Regions from separate parts of the Homo sapiens genome. Here region 1 is linked to region 2. A link means that fine-mapping ties the variant in region 2 to the expression of a gene that starts in the linked region. Tissue or cell type: whole blood. Region 2 holds a variant in brackets; the other region holds the start of a gene. All regions are shown on one strand. Distances are between the middles of the regions.

Region 1 (8,393 bases), 55 kb after region 2:
TTTCTGACAACAGACAATGAGCTCTCTAGAGGAATACACACCTTTAATGAACTGTGATCAGGATGTGATTGGCTTAAAGACAGAGCTCTTGACAAGTCAATATATGTTGGCAGGGCAACAACAAGCTTCCAGAAAGGCGTGGACTCCTCAGAGCTTCATCTGCTGCTGTCTGGAGCAGTGGCGAAGCTTGGGAGGCCACTCCCTGGGTGAGCAAGCAGAAGGTGGCAGCCCTCCCCCATCTGTTTTCACAGGACGCTTAATCCCTGTAGTAAGGGAAACCGTCAGGACTGTGCTAAAGGCTGACTGGAGGCCAAATCATTTCACTTTCAAACACATTCATGATTTGTTTTCTGAGTAAGTCACTGGAGGCTTTTATCTGGCACAGCAGAGCTGGCTTGGCCACCAGAACCAGATCACCTTTCCTTGAAAGATGGCTGGAATGGCCATCGGTTTCGTGTTATTTACTCCTTTGAGAATATTAACTTCATCATTTTTTTAATTGTGGAAAAATATAATTGCTAGTAAGTACAACAATAAGTACAGTATTTAATTTAGAGGACAGAGAAGCAAGCACATTGACAAGTGATAGGCATGAACAGGCTGACACCTCAAAGTCATCATTATACTGAGCAGACAGCACAGGATAGGGTTTCTCCACCTGGAGAAGAGGGGAGTGTGGGATGAGATAGGGACAGTAGAAAATTTGGGCTGGGGTATAAAGACAGAAATTCTTATATCTGAAATGGATATTTGATACTGGGAGTAGTGAGTTGAGAATAAGCTGACCTTCTCCATCTCTACTACACCCACCCCCACTCTAATTCTCTTACCTAGGGTTTTATCTCCTTGTATTGCACAACAGAGCTGCACCAGATAGAGAAGTGGAAACCTAGTTTTTACGTCCACAAAGAATGAGCTACTCATTGAGACATTCATCATTTGCTTAGAATTACTCTTGCATGGGGGAATGGAAGCCCTAAACATTTAATAAATATCCAGAAGCACTGAGGTGTTAGCTTGATTCTGTAGCAGATGTTAAGACCAAAAACTTTATTTAAGAAGCATTTGAATGATTTTTTTAAATTTAATTGCTCAGGTTTCCCTGTAATTTATGAAGGCCTTTAGTGAATAGCCACAAAAATAATGAAAACTTCATATTCAAATAATAACTTAATATTACATTACTGGTTTCCTTTAGAAACATAATGCAAGTAATTCTTTTCAACTTCACCTTCTGTCAACACCATCTCAAGGAGGACTATACATAAAGGAAAATATGCTCCTCATATTTTTATATTTTCCTCTAAATGATAGGGGAAAATACTACTACTATACGGTGTCTTAAAAGTCTTACATTAATTCTCCAGTTCAGAAAATTGGTTGCCTGTAGCCAAAGCATGTAGTAAAATAGGTTTGCATGAAAAGCAATGCTTTTGCTTTTATTTTTTTATTTTTTATTTTTAAATTTTATTTTATTTTATTTTAAGTTCCAGGGTACATGTGCAGGATGTGCAGGTGTGTTACATAGGTTAACGTGTGCCATGGTGGTTTGCTGTACTTATCAACCCATCACCTGGGTATTAAGCCTGGCATGCATTAGCTATTTTTCCTGATGCTCTCCCCTCCATTGCCCTCCCCCAACAGGCCTCAGTGTTTGTTGTTCCTCTCCCTCTTTTATTGATTATAAGACACATAACACAGAGTGACAAGGGGAGAATCAAATGTAATTATCAGCATCATCATCTTGTTGTAATCAAATAATATTACTGCACAAATTTTCCTTTGTGAGCAAAGATTTTATAAAAATAGAAAAATGGGTGTTTATTATTATGTAATAATAAGAAAAGCTCAAAATAAGATAAATTTGAGCAAGTATCTATACTTCCGCTTATTTCGGAAACATACCATCATGTTACTAAACTCACCTCATAGCATTTTAGTTGTTTTTATTAAATCTTCAAACCTTTCAGACACTACTAAGCATAGAGACCATTCATAACAAATGAAACTTTCAGTTTTTTAAACTAAAACTTTCTAAATGTGTACATTTCTTTTCTGCCTTTTTGGAAAGCAAACTTTTAAAAATGTATATACTTTTAGGACACAGAGGCTGAGAGATATAAATTGCTGGGCTCACCTTCCCTTTAGTGGGACAAATGCATTAAAAAAGAGCAAGAGTCCCACAAACCAGGAAGCTGCCCTTGGCCTCTAATACATTAATTAATGTTTATAAAGTGCCTTCTGTATGCCTGGCAATGTACTACAAGCTGGAAATCCAGGACAAATAAGCCACAGTTACCGCCAACCCTTAAGGAACTCATGATCTAGTGAGAAACACAGACATATCTCCAACAACTAAGAGAGAGTACAAGACGCCAGAGCTCAGAAGGCCTTACCCAGTCTTGTGGGACAAAGTTCAAAAGGAGATCATATCTACACTGGGTTTTGGAGCATAAGCAGGAGTTAGCCAGGTGAAAAAGGAGAGGGGGCAGTACATTCCATGAAGACAGGGCGTGTTGCTTGCTTTTGGAGGATTATTTCATTTTATTTTATTTTATTTTATTTTACTTTATTTTATTTTATTTTATTTTTGAGACAGAGTCTTGCTCTTGTTGGCCCGGGCTGGAGTGCAATGGTGCAATCTCAGCTCACTGCAACCTCCGCCTCCTTTGTTCCAGCAATTCTCCTGCCTCAGCCTCCTGAGTAGCTGGAATTACAGGTATGCACCACCACCACGCCCAGCTAATTTTTGGATTTTTTAGTAGAAACAGGGTTTCACCATGCTGGCCAAGCTAGTCTCGAACTCCTGACCTCAGGTGACCTACCCTCCTAGGCCTCCCAAAGTGCTGGGATTATAGGCGTGAGCCACCTCACCCAGTGGATTATTTTATTTTGTTTTGGCCATCTGAGAGAGGTTGGCAGAGAGGAGAAGAAAAACAAGTAATCCCAAATTCCAGTTAGGCTTCCTTCATGGCCCAAGATCAACTGTCCCATGTTAGGTAAAGTCTTCCTCAACTCTTCTGCCCCCATGCAGAAGGAATTACATATTCCTGGGTATTTCCAGATGCCTTTATTCATACTTTGAGCTTAATACTCATCACAGTGTGTCATGGTTAGTTATACAGTGTCTATCTCTATAGTGGTTATAATACATGTTTGGTTGCAGCAAAAGAGACACAACATAACACTGATTTTTAAAAGTTAAATGTCTGTCCTCCTGTTCCCTTCTTTATAACCATCTAGCAAAATCCAGTGAAGATGGGGTTGTCTCCTGTGTTGGGGGCCAGGTCCTTCTATCTCCTGGCTCTGTCATGCCTAGAGTATTACCTTAGTCATCACTGGATCAGAAGAGCTCAGGCCCCCACAGCATCCCAGCCAGCTGGGAGGGGAAAGCATGATGGGGCCCTCTTTTAGGACACACCAAGAAGCTACATAGATCCCTTCTGCATAGATCCCATTGACTAAAACTTAACCACATGGCCAAATCTAATGTCAAGAGGGACTAGAAAATGCCTTATCCTGTGTAGCTGTGGGCCAGGTAAAAAGCCAGAGATCTCTTAGGATAGAATAAGCATCCTAAACTTTTGGCAAACTTTTTCTGCAGAGGACTAGATAGTAAATATTTCAGGCCATATACGGTCTCAGCCATGTCATCATCATTGTTGTCATCATCATTGTTACCATCATTGTCTTCTTTTGCTTCTTCTCCCTTTTCTTACAATTCTTAAAAAATGTAAATTCTTAGCCTGAGGTCTGTACAAAACATTCCACAGGCCAGATTTGGCATGCGGGCCATAGTTTGCTGACCCTACTACTCTATAAGAAGGGAAAATCATACGGGGAGGAAAGTGACCATCTCTGGCATAACGTCTGTAAGATTATAAGCCACTGAGTGGAAAATCCTTGTCTTCTCCATCTTTCTAGTCTTGGCCAGTGCTTGACCCACACAGTAAGTGTTTGATGTTTATGAATGAATGAGTAGAAGGAAGGTGGGGGAGGTTAATTTCACAATCACAATTTGTTAAAATCTCATTTAGTCCCAATGGTAGCCTCTGTTTTGGGGGGTTTCTTTTCTTTTCTTGTCTTTTCTTTTCTTTTTTTCTCTTTTCTTTTTTGAGTTTCTTTCTTTCTTTCCTTCTCTTTATTTTTCTTTCTTTCTTTCTTCTTTTTTTTTTTTCCTTCAGACAGGATCTTGCTCTGTTACCCAGGCTGGAGTGCAATGGTGGTGCAATCATAGCTCACTGAAGCCTTGAACTCCTGTGCTCAAGAAATCCTCCCACCTCAGCTTCCCAAATGTCTGGGGCTACAGGCATGCACCATCACACTTGGCTAATTTTTTTTTTATTTTTGTAGAGACAGGGTCTCACCATGTTGTCAAGACTGGTCTTGAACTCCTGGTCTCAAGCAATCCTCCTGCCTCAGCCTTCCAAAGTACCGGGATTACAGGCATGACCCACTACACTCAGCCCCACTGGTGGTCTTTTCACATGGATTATCATCTAAATACTCCATTTCTTCCAGCCTCAAGAATAGTCTAACAGAGAGCCGACAGAGTGAGTCTAGTGGGCTTTCCACACATGAGTGACCACTCTTCAGTTGATATGGTCAAGCACACCACTTTACCTCCTGACCTCAGGTGCAATTAGCTTCCAAATATTCCACATGCTCCAGTGGACCTTTCTAATTGTAAGCATCCCCCTTTGGCCCCCATTGCAGGTGACACTCCTGGGTGTGTGGAAAGATTATGGGTCCAAAGAACTTACAGCTTCTTCCTCTTGAATAAACATGGTGGCAGGCAGGAGAATCTTGTTTTGGTTTTACCCTTTTAAATATCACATGCTTGGTGGGAATGTTAGCAGAAGTATCCAGGCTGAACAGACACTTTTAAGTTCCCCTTTCTCCTCCTTATTACTCAATATCCTGAGGGCATAATAGAACTTTTCTTGTCTAAGTTTGCCTGGTCAGGGGAGGGAGGTGTGGCTCACTCAACCACTGACCGGGACAAAACCCTGCCAGGCATCAGAAAGCTCCGCAGTTCTTGAGTTCCACATGCAGAGCAGATGCGACAGCTAGAAGTGAGTAGGGCCCAGACCCTGGCCCAGGAAGATCCACTAAAGGAGGCCATCCTTCCGCCTTCTTCTGCAGGAGTCAGGTAACAGCTATGCCTAGGTTTCTTCTTTCAAATAAATGTGTAATTTTTTATAGCAGGAAAAAAGCACCACTTCCAAATTCTGGCAGCACAGACTGTGCTAGCTGAATAACTGAAGGAAACGCATGTTCTGTTGGAAAATAGCAAAAGAGATGAACAGGAGACACTAAAACTCAGCCTCATGGTAGCCAAAAGGATGATAAGCAGATAAAAATGTGGCCGGGAACGTGTCTGTCACTTGCTCTTTCGTAACTGGATAAGGCCTCTCATGTGTTCTTGTTGGAACCTCTGGTGCCACTAGCGTTAAATAACGTCTTGCAGTGAAACCAGAAACAAGGTTTTATTGCCAACAGAGCTGGGCACAGATGGTTTATTTCATCCTGGTTCCTAACAAATATGTGTCCATCCTTTTGATGAGAAAGAGTAACTTTCAATTTCCTCCAAACCTGGCAGGAGGTGAGGATTCACATGAGATTTCTACATAGACTAAAGAAAGGGACTATACTGCCATGAATTATGCCTTCTCAGAAGGAATCCTGGCAAACTGGATAAATGATGACAAACAGCTGCAGATCAGCCAAGGAGGCCTTTCAAAGCAACCAGCAACTCCAAATTTTCCTCGGAGCCTTTGGCTGTCTTGTATACATTGCTGATTCTTCTGAAAAATTCACAAGGTCTTTTCCCCCCATTTAACTTGATTTGCAGGGAAGTAATTAATAGAAATGGGCCTCTGACTCTGCCTTCTATTAGCTGTGTGACTTTGGGAGAGCCACTTAACCTCTCTGTGTCTCAGTTTTCTCATCTAAACATGGGGATAATAATAGAACTCATCTCATGGAGTTGTTGAGGGGATAAAACTATATACACTTTTTGAGTACTAATGTAAAATAATAATTAATATTCACCATTTTAAATATTTTTTCATTAAATACAAATAATTCTGCGTGGGAAACAGATGGGCTTATCACCGGAAGGGTGAAGTTGTGGCTGTGATTTTCTGCCCATGCTATGGGAATGCCACCGGAGGTTTTAGGTAGAGTAAAACGTCCCCATGCAATGTGAGATACACACACTTCAAATAGTCCGATACCTTAAGAAATTAATCATAAGTGATAGGTGAGGGGGAGGAGGATAAGGGTGCTCTTTCCAATAAAACCACATGTTTTATGATGTACCATTAAAGGCGATCCTGAATATCAAAGGCGTTATGGTGCACTTAAGGCACCCCGTGGAAAAGTTGACCATCCGTTTCAAAAAGGAAAGGCTAAAAAGGTTTCCATTTCCCTTGAGAAATTATTGTAAAGGTTGAAATCCACACTGCCTGACTGTCATGTCCATTATTTGTTTACTACCATTGGGCTTCAAATTCCCCCCAGCTTCTGCTGGAGTCCAGAGGCTTGGAAGCTCGCAGCAGCTGATTTCTGGTGCAATGCTGCACCTTGCCAAGTTACGGCTGCTTCATAGAGCAATCACACTGACATCTAGTGGTCTAAAGAGTAAGTGCAGGCGGTGGCTTTGAAGCTTTTACCAGCCTCAATGTGCTTTAAAAACCACATTTTCCACCATTTACACAATACGTTAACAAGAGAGAGAGATCAGGGATGTAGAAATGATATTTCATTTGTCTGAGGTGTTACTAGAGGCTGCTCTACAGGAACATTTCTAAAAACAAGAAAGTGAAGAGAGTGAACCGTGGCTCGCTGGCGGGTTTGGGCTGTGGTTCCAGGGGTTGCGGTTAAGACTGTGACTCCAGAATCAAGATCCTGAGCTTGAAGGTGGTCTCTGCCACGCACCAGCTGTGGGCCTTGGGTGAGTTCCTAAATGGTTCCATGACTCAGTTTCTTTATCTGTCAAATGGGGATAACAGTAACGTCTCCATTGACCTGTTTTGAGGTGATCCCTGAAAAGCTCCTAGCACAGCACCTGGCCCAGAAGGCAATCGGGGTTGCCCTCTGTTCTTGTTGTGACTGTTTTTTAAGAGCAAGCTGCTGCAGAAGCTGGCACCCCACAGGTCAGACAGCATAGCGCAGTGGAAAGCTCAGAGGATGAGCAAGGGAGAGACCCAGATTTTAGCCCAACTGTGTGAACCTGGACAGATCCCTTACGCAGTTTCTTTTTTGTAAAATGAAGGACCTTGGTTCGCTAATGTTTAAGGATTTTTTCCTTTCTCAAACGTTGTGTTCTAAACCTTGTACAGGCTTCTAATTGAAATTGTTCTACCTTTAAGGCCCATTTGTCTCCTTTCTTTTTACCAAAGCCCAGGGCCAAGCATGTCCCAGGTGTTTATTATATAGTTGCTGACTGATAAGAAGTGATTGTTGGAATGCTCTCTATTGGTCACTAGGAATAAACCAAGAATGTCTTTGGGCAGGAATGAAAATCCAGTGGGAAGCTCTGGAAGTCAAGGAATATTTCCCCATCAGAAGCTGGTCTGGGGTTTCTCTGATAAATTTGGAAAGCTCAGTGGTTGTCTTGTTTTTCTACCTCTGCTAATCAGCCTCTCTAAACAGATAAGAAACCAGGAAAATCATTTAGCTATATAAATTCAATACATAACCTTGTTAATCACGTTGCTGCAGCCTGCGCCTTGTGAGTTGGTCAGAGCAGTGGATGACTTTGCTTCTAAGTGCAGGTGAAATGCCACCAAATTCACATGCTGCCTGTGACCAATGCCTAACTCAGTCTTTCCAAGCCAGGGATAATCCCAGCTGGGATGTCACCTCTAATATGGCAACAAATGGTGGTGCAGCAAAAAATAATCATGAAACAGTCTTTCTTCCCTTCTTCCTAAACTTCATCCACATAGACTGTTGGATATTTATAGAAATCCAGCACAAACACAGGGAGGGGAACGACACACACTGGGGCCTGTTGCAGGGCAGGGGGAGAGAGAGCATCATGATAAATAGCTAATGCATGTGGGGCCTGATACCTAGGTGATGGGTTGAGAGGTGCAGTAAGCCACCATGGCATGCATTTACCTGTGTAACAAACCTGCACATCCCGCACATGTATCCCAGAAAGAACTTAAAATAAAATTTAAAAACAAATAAACAAAAGAGTGAACAAAGGAGGGAGCTGCGGGTAGAATTTTAACAACATGCATACCACTATTTTTATATTAGAGATTTCTAATATATGCTAATATAAATATATGCAATATTAAAAATCGTATTATACACACACACGAAAAAAGTTTAATTTGGGAGTTTTGTAAGGGCGTGTATTATTTTCCTGTGGTTTC
Region 2 (8,393 bases):
CCAATTAAAAGACACAGACTGGCAAATTGGATAAAGAGTCAAGACCCATCAGTGTGCTGTATTCAGGAGACCCATCTCATGTGCAGAGACACACATAGGCTCAAAGTAAAGGGATGGAGGAAGATCTACCAAGAAAATGGAAAACAAAAAAAGGCAGGGGTTGCAATCCTAGTCTCTGATAAAACAGACTTTAAACCAACAAAGATCAAAAGAGACAAAGAAGGTAATTACATAATGGTAAAGGGATCAATTCAACAAGAGGAGCTAACTATCCTAAATATATATGCACCCAATACAGGAGCACCCAGATTCATAAAGCAAGTCCTTAGAGACCTACAAGGAGACTTAGACTCCCACACAATAATAATGGGAGACTTTAATACCCCACTGTCAACATTAGAGAGATCAACAAGACAGAAAGTTAACAAGGATATCCAGGAATTGAACTCAGCTCTGCACCAAGCAGTCCTAATAGACATCTACAGACTCTCCACCCCAAATCAACAGAATATACATTCTTTTCAGCACCACACCACACCTATTCCAAAATTGACCACATAGTTGGAAGTAAAGCACTCCTCAGCAAATGTAAAAGAACGGAAATTATAACAAACTGTCTCTCAGACCATAGTGCAATCAATCTAGAACTCAGGATTAAGAAACTTACTCAAAACTGCTCAACTGCATAGAAACTGAACAACCTGCTCCTGAATGACTACTGGGTAAATAATGAAATGAAGGCAGAAATAAAGATGTTCTTTGAAACCAACGAGAACAAATACACAACACACAAGAAGCTCTGGGACACATTCAAAGCAGCGTGTAGAAGGAAATTTACAGCACTAAATGCCCACAAGAGAATGCAGGAAAGATCTAAAATTGACACCCTAACATCACAATTAAAAGAACTAGAGAAGCAAGAGCAAACACATTCAAAAGCTAGCAGAAGGCATGAAATAACTAAGATCAGAGCAGAACTGCAGGAAATAGCGACACAAAAAACCCTTCAAAAAATCAATGAATCCAGGAGCTGGTTTTTTGAAAAGATCAACAAAATTGATAGACCACTAGCAAGACTAATAAAGAAGAAAAGAGAGAAGAATCAAATAGACGCAATAAAAAATGACAAAGGGGATATCACCACCAATTCCACAGAAATACAAACTACCATCAGAGAATACTATAAACACCTCTATGCAAATAAACTAGAAAATCTAGAAGAAATGGGTAAATTCTTGGACACATACACTCTCCCAAGACTAAACCAGGAAGAAGTTGAATCCCTGAATAGACCAATAACAGGCTCCGAAATTGAGGCAGTAATTAATAGCCTACCAACCAAAAAAAGTCCAGGACCAGAAGGACTCACAGCCAAATTCTACCAGAGGTACAAGGAGGAACTGGTACCATTCCTTCTGAAACTATTCCAATCAATAGAAAGAGAGGGAATCCTCCCTAAATCATTTTATGAGACCAACATCATCCTGATACCAAAGCCTGGCAGAGACACAACAAAAAAAAGAGAATTTTAGACCAATATCCCTGATGAACATCGATGCAAAAATCCTCAATAAAATACTGGCAAACCGAATCCAGCAACATATCAAAAAGCTTATCCACCATGATCAAGTGGGCTTCATCCCTGGGATGCAAGGCTGGTTCAAGATATGCAAATCAATAAACGTAATCCAGCATATAAACAGAATCAATGGCAAAAACCACATGATTATCTCAGTAGATGCAGAGAAGGCCTTTGACAAAATTCAACAGCCCTTCATGCTAAAAAACTCTCAATAAATTAGGTATTGATGGGATGTATCTAAAAATAATAAGAGCTATCTATGACAAACCCACAGTCAATATCATACTGAATGGGCAAAAACTGGAAGCATTCCCTTTGAAAACTGGCACAAGACAGGGATGCCCTCTCTCACCATTCCTATTCAACATAGTGTTGGAAGTTCTGGCCAGAGCAATCAGGCAGGAGAAAGAAATAAAGGGTATTCAATTAGGAAAAGAGGAAGTCAAATTGTCCCTGTTTGCAGACGACATGATTGTATATCTAGAAAACCCCATCATCTTAACCCAAAATCTCCTTAAGCTGATAAGCAACTTCAGCAAAATCTCAGGATACAAAATCAACGTGCAAAAATCACAAGCATTCTTATACACCAATAACAGACAAACAGAGAGCCAAATCATGAGTGAACTCCCATTCACAATTGCTTCAAAGAGAATAAAATACCTAGGAATCCAACTTACAAGGATATGAAGGACCTCTTCAAGGAGAACTGCAAACCACTGCTCAATGAAATAAAAGAGGACACAAACAAATGGAAGAACATTCCATGCTCATGGGTAGGAAGCATCAGTATCGTGAAAATGGCCATACTGCCCAAGGTAATTTATATTCAATGCCATCCCCATCCAGCTACCAATGACTTTCTTCACAGAACTGGAAAAAACTACTTTAAAGTTCATATGGAACCAAAAAAGAGCCCGCATTGCCAAGTCAATCCTAAACCAAAAGAACAAAGCTGGAGGCATCACGCTACCTGACTTCAAACTATACTACAAGGCTACAGTCACCAAAACAGCATGGTACTGGTACCAAAACAGAGATATAGACCAATAGAACAGAACAAAGCCCTCAGAAATAATGCCACATATAAACAACTATCTGATCTTTGACAAACCTGACAAAAACAAGAAATGGTGAAAGGATTCCCTATTTAATAAATGGTGTTGGGAAAACTGGCTAGCCATATGTACAAAGCTAAATCTGGATCCCTTCCTTACACCTTATACAAAAATTAATTCAAGATGGATTAAAGACTTAAGTGTTAGACCTAAAACCATAAAAGCCCTAGAAGAAAACCTAGGCAATACCATTCAGGACATAGGCATGGGCAAGGACTTCATGTCTAAAACACCAAAAGCAATGGTAACAAAAGCCAGAATTGACAAATGGGATCTAATTAAACTAAAGAGCTTCTGCACAGCAAAAGAAACTGCCATCAGAGTGAACAGGCAACCTACAGAATGGGAGAACATTTTTGCAATCTACTCATCTGACAAAGGGCTAATATCCAGAATCTACAAAGAACTCAAACAAATTTACAAGAAAAAAACAACCCCATCAAAAAGTGGGCAAAGGATATGGACAGACACTTCTCAAAAGAAGACATTTATGCAGCCAACAGACACATGAAAAAATGCTCATCATCACTGGCCATCAGAGAAATGCAAATCAAAACCACAATGAGATACCATCTCACACCAGTTCAAATGGTGATCATTAAAAAGTCAGGAAACAACAGGTGCTGGAGAGGATGTGGAGAAATAGGAACACTTTTACACTGTTGGTGGGACTGTAAACTAGTTCAACCACTCTGGAAGACAGTGTGGCGATTCCTCAGGGATCTAGAACTAGAAATACCATTTGACCCAGCCATCCCATTACTGGGTATATACCCAAAGGATTATAAATCATGCTGCTATAAAGACACATGCACACATATGTTTATTGTGGCACTATTCACAATAGCAAAGACTTGGAACCAACCCAAATGTCCATCAATGATAGACTGGATTAAGAAAATGTGGCACATATATACCATGGAATACTATGCAGCCATAAAAAATGATGAGTTCATTTCATTTGTAGAGACACGAATGAAGCTGGAAACCATCATTCTCAGCAAGCTATCACAAGGACAAAAAAGCAAACACCGCATGTTCTCACTCATAGGTGGGAATTGAACAATGAGAACACATGGTCACAGGAAGGGTAACATCACACACCGGGGCATGTCGTGGGGTGGGGGTAGGGGGCAGGGATAGCATTAGGAGATATACCTAATGTAAATGACGAGTTACTGGGTGCAGCACACCAACATGGCACATGTATACATATGTAACAAACCTGCACATTGTGCACATATACCGTAAAATTTAAAGTATAATTAAAAAAAAGTAGGAAAGAAAAAAGGAAGGAAGGAAGGAAGGAGAAAAAATGAGAAATAGATCCCTTTTGATGTGGGACCTTTTCTTTATTTTATTCATTAAAGATCAAATTATCATTAAACAAATGGCAAAAGCAATAAGCAACCCCATGAGAGTGTGTGTCAGTTAAATCTTGTCTTGGAGACTCACTGAAGCAAAGGGATTATGACTTAGAATTCTGCTTCTGTGAAACAAATGCAAGGACAAATGATGTGAGAAATCACGAGAAGAAAACAGCAGGACCCAATAGACCCATGGAGTTCATGCATCCCCAAAGACCCAAAGAGAGGGTGTGATACAAATAATGGACAAAATTACAAAAAACAAAGCAAGGTAATATATAACCTAGAATTCTTCTATAAGCTTTGTTGTCTCTTTGCTCTCCAGGTTAACTGGTTTGATAAAAACTCCTTAAGTGAAGTCTAGATTAATTTTTTCATTGTCCTATTTTAGCAGATTGTTTTTACTGTAGTAAATATTCACCTGGGATTGGGTTTAAATTGTAAAGACAAATGCTCCCTTCTTTTCTTGAGTTTCAATACAATCTACTCGTTCCATTAAAATGTGGTGGAAACTCTCTTTTTAATCAAAAGTAAGTTGATTAATAAGCTATTTCTTCCAGAACACTGATGTTCTGAAGAGTTAAGGCCCTCTTTCATTAAAAGTAGAAAGTACAAGAGTGAAAAAGTTCACTGTGTTTTTAAAACAAAAAGTGAAAGAGAAATAACCCAAATCAAGGAAGTCCCCACTTCCTCCTGCACAGCCTTCTTAAGCATGCCTGTTCTTATTCTGCTTTTTCCTGCTACTTCCCATTT[G/A]CTATTTCATATCTAGCCAAACAGGGAGACTGAATTTCCTTGAATTTTTATGAATCTGCTTGTAAGTTTCCTTTAATTTCATGATCAAAGAGCAGCTCTGTAGTGACTATCTCTTAGTATTTGGCGATATTTTAGCCAAAGGTTCTCTTATAGCTTCCCATAAATGATGGGCTTCAAGGAAGGTTGTAGATGCAGAATCAGTGTACAAAACAAACATTGCTTTCATCTGAGGAACTCACGAGGCAAAAAAAAAAGAAAAAGTGTTTTAAAAAAAGCTGACCTAGGACCTTAGAGTGAGAAAAGGAAGTATGAAAATTAATTCTCATTGGAGCAGTTTCCAATCTAGTTGAGGAGCCAAACCTAATACACCCAATACAATTAGAGAACCATAAAGGGCAAACATATTAAAAGAGCTTAATTTTGTAGTGTGGCCTGCAGGCTTCCAGAAAAAAACAGGAGATCAGTGAGCTAGCAGCAGAGAAGCCTTCCTGGAAAAGGTGAGATTCGACATCCCTCTGTTCTATCTCAGGGGTCTTAGCCAGGCACATTAATGTTGGGCACGTAGAGTAGATGGCTACTTGTTTCTTGTATAAAATGTTAGACATTCGGGTTATAAAAAAGAAAATGTATCGGAGTTTATAACTATTTCTAACCTTCTATGCTAACAGTTTTAACCATGCTTCTTTTAAAACCTAATACCTGTAATCCCAGCACTTTGGGAGGCCAAGGTGGGTGGATCATAAGGTAAGGAGTTCAAGACCAGCCTGGGCAAGATGGTGAAACCCCATCTCTACTGAAAATACAAAAATTAGCCAGGTGTGGTGGCACATGCCTGTAATCTCAGTTACTTGGGAGGCTGAGGCAGGAGAATTGCTTGAACCTGGGAGGCGGAGGTTGCAGTGAGCTGAGATCGTGCCACTGTACTCTAGCCTGGGGGACAGAGCAAGACTCTGTCTCAAAAAGAAAAAAAAAAAGCATAATAGATAAAACACTGACGATGCTTCTCAGTAATGATCATTAATATTACTCAAATTTTATTAGTGTTCTTTCCTTTATCTACTTGCAAGATGAGTTTAAAAAATGAAGTTGGTTTTCCCTAGCCACCCCATTCTTCTAGACCTCACAGTCTCCACCTAGCCACCACCTTCAGTGAGTACTGAAGGGGCAGACTCATTCATTGCACCATTGACTGAACAAAAACTGTTTTCTAAAATAAAAATGTATGAAAAGAGAGTGCATGCCCCAGTATTTAAAGAATTATAACTTATTTTGCATTCTGTAAGCTACTTCTCCCTTCTATTAGCAGGACTAATTGCAGTGCCCATACTGCGAAAACATAGGTTTATCATTTTCAGATGGTATCACTATGCTCTCTGTCATCTTTGTTGCATTTCCTGTTTCATCTTCCTGCTCAGGAACTTATGTACTGAGCTCTGGCTTCACAGGAGATATACTCACATATGTGATGTTTGACATATATTTTTCAAATAACATGATTATGCCTTAAAAACTAAATATGAAAATATACTTGTGGACTACAAGTTATAGTTGGGAGTTTCAACTCAACTTTTCTTTTTTTTTCCAAGGCAGAAGAATTTTTCTTAGTACAGAACAAAATGAAAAGTCTCCCATGTCCACTTCTTTCTACACAGACACAGCAACCATCCGATTTCTCAATCTTTTCCCCACCTTTTCCCCTTTTCTATTCCACAAAACCGCCATTGTCATCATGGCCCGTTCTCAATGAGCTGTTGGGTACACCTCCCAGACGGGGTGGTGGCCGGGCAGAGGGGCTCCTCACTTCCCAGAAGGGGCGGCCGGGCAGAAGCGCCCCCCACCTCCCGGACGGGGTGGCTGGCCGGGCGGAGGCGCCCCCCACCTCCCTCCTGGACAGGGCAGCCGGCCGGGTGGGGAACTTCTTTTTTTTTCTTAGCCAAAAATACTTTTCTTAAATATATGTGTTTGAAAGACCACTAAATTTATTTCAATAACAACTAAAAATTACCTTAATCTGCATTTGGAAATAAGCACAACTTGAAATGGAATTTAGATGGATGAATTGAAATTCAAAGTTCTCTTAACCAGAGACTTACCCAATAAATTACACTGTTAACTGAATAATTGCTAGATTCCTGTTTATCATGTAATTTGTGTCCAACTTACTGGTATAGAGAGGAAATTGTAGCATGACTAAGATTAAGTAATTCTTTTTTTTTTTTTTTTTTTTTTGAGATGAGTCTGGTTCTGTCCCCCAAACTGGAGTGCAGTGGCGCAATCTCGGCTCACTGCAAGCTCCGCCTCCCGGGTTCATGCCATTCTCCTGCCTCAGCCTCCCGACTAGCTGGGACTACAGGCGCCCGCCACTAGGCCCAGCTAATTTTTTGTATTTTTTTTTTTTTAGTAGAGACGGGATTTCACCGTGTTAGCCAGGATGGTTTCGATCTCCTGACCCCATGATCCGCCTGCCTCGGCCTCCCAAAGTGCAGGGATTACAGGCATGAGCCACCGCGCCCGGGCTGATTAAGTAATTTTTATGTAGTACATGGGGTAAACATGTTGATTAACTTAGTAGAGAACAGTGTCAGAGTGTCACGATTATTTCTACCCACAAGGCTGGCCTGGTGATCTGTTCACTATCTTGCTAGTATGAGTCACCTGCTCCTTCTTTTAAGGCAAAGGCTCTCAAATATGCACATACCTTGGAATCACATGGTGAGCTTTGAAATACACTGATGCCTGAGTTTCAACCCCAGATTTTCATATAATAACCTGGGGTGAAGCCTGGGAGCTGAGACTTAAAACATCCCAGGTGATTTTAATGTGCAGCCAGGTTGAGAACCACTGCTTTAGAGTGATTCTCTTTACCCTAAGCTGTATCTGCACTTTGATGATCTCTATTCTAACAGACAGTAGATAAGAGGCTTTCTAGTGAAAGTAAAGAATGTCTCCATTTCAAAGCATTCTGGAAAATGTGTTATACTTAAAAGTATGCCTGGGTCCCATACCTCGCTCTTGCTTTGCTCTTCCTCCTCTATTCATTCATTAAGCATGTATTATGTGTAAGATAATGTGCAATTTCAGATTCCTGACCATCCACCAGATTCTGACCATGCCTCACATCCCTCTTTATAATATGTAAAGTTTTCAGGACAATCTCAGTTTCTACTTCTGGAACTCAACCCCTACCCTGGCTTTTTGCCTGTCCTATTAATTTCTAATTATGTCTTAATTTTGAAAACATTTTTATTTTAAGGAATAAATAACAGGTAACATCTTTTTTGAAAAAGGATTTTGTATGGATATAGGATTAATTAGTGTTTGGTCAGCATCATGTATAGAAATTTGGTGACCTTACACTAAATAAGCACTGTAATACTTACAACAAGATCTGGAAATTTGCAACCACCAAAAAAGGAATCATGCCTTTCCTCTGCCATGGAAAACAAAGATGACCTTCTACCCTTGAACTTACTTTAGTAGAAGGCTAAATATTCCAATTAAAGGGGCCAAATCTGTATATCAGAATGTGTTCAGAGAGGTACATGGATGATTGGAAAGTCTGACTACTTGGGA

The links. PIP is the estimated chance that this variant, and not a neighbour inherited with it, causes the effect.
Region 1: it holds the start of FYB1, and the variant in region 2 is fine-mapped to the expression of FYB1 in whole blood (TOPMed, PIP 0.92).

The regions. Positions count from the first base shown.
Region 1 is chr5:39,216,202-39,224,594 of GRCh38, reverse strand. FYB1 (FYN binding protein 1) reads left to right here and starts at 5,032. Exons shown (of 19, transcript NM_001465.6): 1 at 5,032-5,152. RefSeq lists an enhancer at 3,455-3,956.
Region 2 is chr5:39,271,327-39,279,719 of GRCh38, reverse strand. It overlaps a transcript of FYB1 not described here. Among named protein-coding and RNA genes, the nearest start is that of FYB1, 56 kb to the right of the region's middle. The variant G/A (reference allele first, on the strand shown) is at 4,821.